Homo sapiens: one gene and its partner. The protein of the gene in region 1 purifies or fractionates together with the protein of each later gene. This does not show direct contact. Each region holds a gene or a part of one and is shown in the gene's direction. Other genes may lie near its edges.

What was found.
Region 2: the proteins of SOWAHB (region 1) and DIAPH2 purify together in Homo sapiens (affinity purification with mass spectrometry; one large-scale study listed by BioGRID and IntAct). This does not show direct contact.

What each region holds. Positions count from the first base shown.
Region 1 is NC_000004.12:76,895,229-76,899,789, reverse strand, and holds the start of SOWAHB (ankyrin repeat domain-containing protein SOWAHB), read left to right. Parts: upstream 1-1,645; 5' UTR 1,646-1,940; coding exon 1,941-4,322; 3' UTR 4,323-4,561.
Region 2 is NC_000023.11:96,691,158-96,694,968, forward strand, and holds part of DIAPH2 (protein diaphanous homolog 2), read left to right. Parts: intron 1-3,811. UniProt on the Homo sapiens protein: Could be involved in oogenesis. Involved in the regulation of endosome dynamics.

The sequences.
Region 1 (4,561 bases):
GAAAGCTGAAATTTAATACAAAACCTTAATTTTAAAAACTATCCTAAAGGCTTGATGTTATGTAGAGACATCAGTGAAAACCACTATCCCTCTCTCAACCCAGTATTGGGTTTGGATCCTAGAAAATGCCAAAAATAGACAAAAATGTTTCCAGTTCTTTTTTTCTGACCTAGATAATGTAAAACCAAAGATTCATTCCTGGAAAAGTGCTAGGGTATTTTTGGGGATTTAAAATCAAGCTCAGTTAATGTGGTCTATAGGGCAGTCACTAAGATTGGTCCATGCTAAAACATGTCTTTGTCAACAATTGTAGGGCCAACACACATACTTTCAATACTCTTTCTTGGCGAGAAGTATAGGAACTATGAGTAATCAGAAATAGAAGAGCAAAAGGAAAAGTGAAAAGATGAGAAGAGTCCATGAGAAAAGAGAGGCAAATTACAGGGAAGGAGAAAATCGAGGTTTTTGAATGGGAAATACAGTGGACATGAGAGGATCTGAGAAACAGACATATTTCCTGTCAGTAGAGGCCGAAGGTAAACAAGGATGTCGTGTAACAGAAAGAAATGGGAAGGCCAAGTTAAAGAAAAGAATGAGAGAAGGCTTGGAACTAAAACAGGTAAAGAGATAATGACAGTGAAAACTATCTCAGGCATGTCAACAGGACTGATAAGGAACAGTGAGGGACATCCAGGATCTCACATCAAAGACAGAAGGGTCAACATGTGGAGAGAGAAAAAGGAAGAGGGATCCCAGCTGTTAGGGGGAAAAGGTGCTGTTAAAGACAGCTCTAGTCTGCATTTTGAACCTTACATTCTGAAAGGAAGCACTTCACCAAGCCAATACAAAACACTGTACAAATCTCTGCTGTTCACAAATTTTAGAGTAAATAAAAGCAAACTAATGCTACACATCAAATACCTTAACTGGCGAGACATAATTCCTAGTTCATTTTAGCCGCCGGGGGCAAGAAGCTATCAAAGTGATTTTTTTTTTCCAGCACCTTAATGTGAGACAAGTATGAAGGAAAGACAAGTATGAAAGAAAAAGTCCCAAACCAATATTGCCCAGTAGTAATTTTCAGAGTGATTTCTCTTTTCAGTATAGACTTGGATGTATTCGGACCCCTTGGAGGGGGCGCCGGAGAAGCGGCCCAGAAAGTATTTCTATATTAAGAAAAATTTAGTTTGGATGCAAAGTGAGTTTTGCGGACCTCAATACAGCCTCGAGAAATCTGAAGTACTCCTCTACAGCGTTAATAAAGAAAGATAACTCAGATTGCCTGTTAACTTGCAGCTTCTCCTCCTCCCCCATCGGCTTCAGCCTGAACTCATCAAAGCACCGGAGGACAGGAACGGACCTTCTATCGCTTTTGTTTCCTGCGTGGCGGAGACTTAGAGGAACGGCCGGTCGCCTACCTGCCTTCCACTTCCCCGGCCGCAGAGCAGTTCGCTGCCGGCTCGGTTCGCCGCCAACCTCACCTACCGGCTGGCTCTCCGGCCTGACTCTTCTGGGATGGGTGGCAGGGGGTGGGGGAGACCTCAGGGGGCGGAGGGACACGAGGAGGCGGGCCTGACCCTTCCCCCAGAGGCAGGGAGGAGGTGCCGCCAGGGCGCAGGTGAAACCGACTCGGCCCTATCCCGGGAACTTTCGCTGTGAGGACTCGTTGCGAGAGGCTAGAGTCGCGCAGGGGCGGCCTCGGAGCCGCCCTCTCTCACGCAGACTGCCGCGGGGACTCAGCCTTGGGGCCACCCGGAGGGGACCCACGGCCCTCCTGGCGCGCTCACGGGCTGCGGGCAGCGCTGGCCTCCGCGGCTGATGGGGGCGGCTAGTGCCGCCCCGGGCGCAGGTGACACTCGCCCGGCCAGGGTTTCCTCTGGCTGGGGAGAGCCCCGGGAGGGCGAGACTCAGACACCTCTGGGGCGGAGGACAAGGCAGCGATGGCCCGAGAGCTGAGCCAGGAGGCACTACTGGACTTTCTGTGCCAGGCTGGGGGCCGCGTGACCAACGCTGCCTTGCTGAGCCACTTCAAGAGCTTTCTCCGAGACCCCGACGCGTCCCCCAGCCAGCACCAGCACCGCCGCGAGCTCTTCAAGGGCTTCGTCAACTCGGTCGCCGCAGTGCGCCAGGACCCCGACGGCACCAAGTACGTGGTGCTCAAGAGGAGATACAGGGACCTTTTGGGGGAGGAGGGGCTGCAGCGACCCCGCGAGCCGCCCGCGGCCGCCCCCAGTGCAGGGGGAGCTGCGCCCTGCTCCCCGCGAGGCGCGCGCCGGGGGGAGCCGCCCCAGCAGCAGCCCAGGCGGCGGCGGCGCGAGAAGGAGCCGGAGGAGGAGCCAGCAGGTGCAGCAGCCAGAGCCGCCGACGCAGCTTGCAATGGACTCCCGGGCAGCGACTCCCGTAGGGCGCCCGGGAAGGGCGGCGGATCGAAGGGCAGTCCCGGACAGAGGCCGCCGGTGCCCGCAGCTGCAGCGGCAGGGGCCCAGGCGAGAGCGAGCTGCGCGGCGGCGAAGACGCAGGGCCGCTGCTGCTGGGAATGCCTCCAGAACAACCTGGCTGTACTGCCGGGAGAGCTCGGCGCACTCCCGCACTCGGCCACCGCGGAGGAGAAGCCGGCACGGGCTCTGCCTGCCCAGGATGACCGCGGGGCTTCCAGGGAGCGGGAAGAAGGCGCGCTAGCTGAGCCGGCGCCTGTGCCTGCAGTGGCTCACTCGCCTCCCGCCACCGTCGAGGCTGCGACAAGCAGGGCTTCCCCGCCTGCTCTCCTGCCCGGCCCCGCTCCCCGCGGAGACCGGCCGGAGCTGCTGACCCCCAGCTCCCTGCATTATTCGACCCTGCAGCAGCAGCAGCAGCGCACTCGAGAGTGGGTGGCCAGGCACCCGCAGGTGCCCGAGGCCCGTGATCAGGGCCCTATCCGCGCCTGGTCGGTGCTGCCAGACAACTTCCTCCAGCTGCCCTTGGAACCCGGCTCCACGGAGCCTAATTCAGAGCCGCCAGACCCCTGTCTTTCCTCGCACTCTCTCTTTCCTGTTGTTCCGGATGAGTCCTGGGAATCCTGGGCGGGGAACCCTTCATTGACTGTCTTTCGCAGCATTCGTTGTCAGCTGTCCCTCCAAGATCTGGATGACTTTGTGGACCAGGAGAGTGATGGCAGTGAGGAGAGCAGCAGTGGGCCCAAAGACTCCCCGGGGGCTTCTGAAGAGGGGCTGCAGGTTGTCTTGGGAACCCCAGATAGGGGGAAGCTCAGGAATCCAGCTGGGGGCCTTTCTGTATCTCGGAAGGAGGGCAGCCCCAGCCGGAGCCCTCAGGGTCTCAGAAACAGAGGGGATGGTCACATCTCTCAGCAGGTCCCTGCAGGGGCTAATGGCCTTGCAGGCCACCCCCTGAAGCCTTTGCCTTGGCCAGTTCCTAAGTTAAGGAGGTCCCTCAGGAGGAGCTCTCTGGCAGGGAGAGCCAAATTGTCCTCCTCTGATGAGGAGTACCTCGATGAGGGCTTGCTGAAAAGAAGTCGGCGCCCACCTCGATCCAGGAAGCCCTCCAAGGCAGGAACGGCACCCAGCCCAAGGGTTGATGCAGGTTTATCACTAAAACTTGCAGAGGTTAAGGCTGTTGTGGCCGAGCGGGGTTGGCGACACAGCCTGTGGGTCCCCAGTGGGGAGGGGTCTGCAGCCTTGGCCCCCCACAGAACTTCTGAGCACAAATCATCCCTGGTTCCACTAGATGCCAGGGAGCATGAGTGGATTGTGAAGCTTGCCAGTGGCTCCTGGATTCAGGTGTGGACTTTGTTCTGGGAGGACCCTCAACTGGCCTTGCACAAAGACTTTTTGACTGGGTACACTGCGTTGCACTGGATAGCCAAACATGGTGACCTCAGGGCCCTTCAGGACTTGGTGTCTGGAGCAAAGAAGGCAGGGATTGTCCTTGATGTAAACGTGAGGTCCAGTTGTGGATATACCCCGCTGCACCTTGCAGCCATTCACGGCCACCAGGGGGTCATCAAATTGCTAGTGCAAAGGTTGGCTTCTCGGGTAAATGTCAGGGACAGCAGTGGGAAGAAGCCATGGCAGTATCTAACCAGTAATACCTCTGGGGAAATATGGCAGCTGTTGGGAGCTCCTCGGGGCAAGCCCATTTTCCCTGTCTATCCCTTAGTTGGAAGTTCTTCCCCTACCAGAAAGGCCAAGAGCAAGGAAATATCTAGAAGTGTCACCCGAAAAACTTCCTTCGCTGCACTACTCAAAAGTCAGCACAACAAGTGGAAACTGGCCAACCAGTATGAGAAATTCCACAGTCCAAGGGAAAGAGAAGAGTATAGTGACTGAGGTGGGTCTCTCTGTCCAACATGCAGGCAGCACTCCCTCATCCTGCTCAGTGAGAGAATTCAGGGGGAATAGAAAAGCTGCTGAGAGTTGGTAAAGAGGATGGTCGAGTGAGATGGTGTTGACCTCCCTGGATCTTATGTCACTACATCCTGGACCTCAAGAGGGTCATCCAAGCTTTTTGAAAGCTGAACTCCTTGACTGGAGAAACCTAGACAAGAGGCGGGGCCAGGTGCTTGATA
Region 2 (3,811 bases), on another chromosome or scaffold:
ACATCTGGTTAAATGTTACTGGGTACCACTAGCACTACAGGGGTTATTGTTGAAGACCCAACTCCAGTCTACCATGCAGAAGAAACCGGTTCCTTCTGCTGGATTTGGGGTGTTTGATACATTTTTTTCCCCTCAAGACAGGAGAAACTATGATGATGTCCAGGTAACTTAAAATATAGTTATTAGCTTGATATCCAAGTGGGCATGTTGTGGAAGACACCCATTGTGGGATACAGCTCAAAACTGATGCATTTAAAGAAAGATTAAGATATATTTTCACATAGCTATTTATTGTGAATGTCAGTAATGGAGAGAAATTAACTCATACTGATTTAAAACTTATTTTCCTCATCAGGTTGAGTCTGTTTCCAAATAATATACTCTGGCTGTAGCTTAAACAGACAACTGAATTCTGGTATTTAACTGACTTTGTGTGAGGTTACCTGGCAGGGAAAGGTATTGGTCCCTTTCTCATGAAAGAATGTAGAAAACAAAATTCTTACTTATCACCATTTGCACAGTCTTTGGTTTACTGAAGATTTTACTGTATTGCTTTAAGGAGAGTAAGCTACATTGCTACAAATACATACCAGCATATTGGCCACCAGCTGTATACAGTGTGGCCTATGAATGAGTGAGAAGCTTCTAGGTAGCTATTAAGGCAGGCCTAGGTAGGAATCCAACACTTTATTAGGAAGGAATTATTCCGAAATGGCTGTTGACTCAATCACCTGGCAGTTCTGGCACTCACCCAAGGGAGAAGAGATTTTGGGTACAATCCTTTTTAAAAAATCTATTTGTTGTTCTGTGATATCATAGACATCCAGGCTTTAAAAAGAAAGATCTGCTCAAAATTAAGAGGAATTTTAACCTACCCTTAATTCGTTGGTCTGTTATTAAGCTAAAAGTAAAAGAAATAAACTTTTAAACTTCATAATATGAGCCAGTTAATGAGACTTTTTTACAAAACTTAAACAAATTTTCAAACGTGCTAAAAAGTAGAATAGTACAATGAACCACCACCATCTATCCATTGCCCAGATATAAGTTATCTACATTTTGCAACATTTGCTTGATCCATCCTTTATTTTTCCCTTGCTAAAGTATTTTAGTGCAAATCTCAGATATCTTGTCATTTTACTCCTACATACTGTCACGTCTTTAAAAATTAAAATTAACATATTCCTTGGTATCATCCAGCATTCATTCCATAATCAAATATTACCAATTGCCTAAAAAAATTAGATTTTTGATCTAAGGTGTACCTAATTGATATACATGTCACTGAACTCCTTAAACAAATACAGCTTTAAATTACTGGTAAAATCTTATTCAGAGTTACTCCACATAAAGTGCTATCATAAAGCCTCAGCCCAAATTAAGTTCACTTCTGTCTTTAATTCTGTAGAAGTATCTGGAAAGGTTGACTATACAAGGGTGGATAGACTCCTTGGAACAGCTGTTATGTACCATCAAAAATAGAACAAATTAGTTTTGGCTTTACTCACTGGTTGGGCAATCACTAATTCTTCATTTTGCAATTTGTGAAGTGGGGTGGGGCTTATGTGTAAGAATTTTCCTTTCAGGGAAATGCTGTAGATAGTTAGGCAAAGGAAAATTATTCTTCATTTCTCTAGATAAAGCGTTCATATGACTCTTTGACATTCACACCCCACCACAACAACTAAGTTTATGTTACTGGCTCTAGTTTTATTTCAAAACAAATGCCGGTTTGGTCTATCTTTGTTTTTCAGCCCCTTTGATATAGTCTAGGTTGCTGAATCTGGATAATTGGGTGAGTAAACCTTTACATAGAAGTTATTCTTATTGAGATGTTTGTGGGCTTACAATTGAAAATCAGACTACACTAATGAGGTGATGGAGCTGGGGATGGGTGGAGTAGGTAAATATGAGAAATCAACTTGGGCAAATGGCCTAGACTCCACACAGATTTGCTAAAGAAATTGTGTAACTATTACTTTCCAGACAGCAGTTTAGTGCTGTTATTGTGCTGAGAGGCAATAGGCAAATAATTTCACTAGCTGTAGACTCAAGTAGATTTAGGCTAGTAATCTGTCTCCACTCTGCAACTTCTAGACTGACCATTTACTAACCCAGTCAGTTGGGTAGTTTTCCTCAAAACAGATAGATGAGTGATAATTGTTGGAGCCAGAGAGCTGGCATTTTCTTCTTTTGTTTGGCCCGGGAGGGAAAACTATGGAGGTGGTGTTTTATGTGCTCTGAAATCAATCACTGATAAAGTCTTAAATGCTTAGTAGTCTATTGTGCTGGCTGAAACTGTTTACAAAGATTCTATATGTAGATAGGAAGACCTTGTATAGGCTGTACACTTGCATTGTGAGCTTTAATAATGTATACGTATAACAGAGACCAGGTCGGTATGTATGGGTGGGCCCTGACCAAGGGTGTGAGACCACAGAGGTCACACCACTTACCAAATCATGTGCCAGTTACAAGACTATGTCTTCCTGGGGCTGCGTTTTCTGATTCACACAGAGGCACCATATGGGCTAGCTAATACATTTAAAGCCAGATGGATTTTAGTCTCATACCTGATAAGAAATTCAGCAAGGATTCCGGGCATGGTGGCTCACGCCTGTAGTCCCAGGACTTTGGGAGGCTGAGGCGGGTGGATCACCTGAGGTCAGAAGTTTGAGACCAGCCTGGCCAACATGGTGAAACCCCATCTCTACTAAAAATACAAAAATTAGCTGTGCATGATGGGAGACGCCTGTAATCCCAGCTACTCGGGAGGCTGAGGCAGAAGAATTGCTTGAACCCAGAAGGCAGAGGTTGCAGTGAGCCAAGATTGCACCATTGTACTCTAGCATGGGCAACAAGAGTGAAACTTCATTTTGAGTAGGGATTTCTTATTTGTCATTGGTTCTGAGAAAAGAATGTAAGATGTATATTTATGTAATATCCTACACCTGATTACTTTTGCTTTTGAATTATTGAAATCTTCAAATGTAGATGGCTGTGCCCTTGAGGGCCTAGGTTATAGTTCAGTATGTTCATTATCTTCCCCAACTTAAGGGTTGAGTTCTGTTATAGCTAATTGTAGATCAATTAGCTTAAGGCTCCTCCCTTTCTGCACTCCTTTCAGCAATTTTCTTGACATAATTGTTTCACAGAGTTTTATATGGTTACGCATTATCTAGGCTGCATTTTTTTTTTTTTTAGATGGAGTCTCACTCTGTCACCCAGGCTGGAGTGCAGTGGCCTGATCTCTGCTTACTGCAACCTCCGCCTCCCGGGTTCAAGCGATTCTTCTGCCTCAGCCTCCCGAGTACCTGGGATTACAAGCATGCACCACCACGCCCAGCTAATTTTTGTATTTTTAGTAGAGATGGGGTTTCCCAATGTTTCCCAGGCTAGTCTCAAACTCCTGACCTCAAGTGATCCGCCCTCCTGGGCCTCCCAAAGTGCTGGGATTACAGGCATGAGCTACCGCGCCTGGCTGCATTGTTTTTTGAAGTTTGTACCATGCTTATTTCCACTTTCATTGCTCACGATACAGGGCAGAACATATAGAAAGTTAAGATGGGTTAAAACAAATTTGGCAGAAGCATTTCCTCTGATAATATGCTCTGCAATCTAGTACCTCACATTACAAAATCAACGTTTTTCAGAAGAGTCAGTGTGTACATAAAATATTTGTGAGTGAAAATAAACTTCTTAGGGTGCCCTCAGCTTGTTTTTCATTGACATTGCATTAGTTTACATTATCTACCTCCCCACCCCCACTTTGGTTGACTAGCTAATGGTCTTTTTTTTTTTTTTTTTTGAG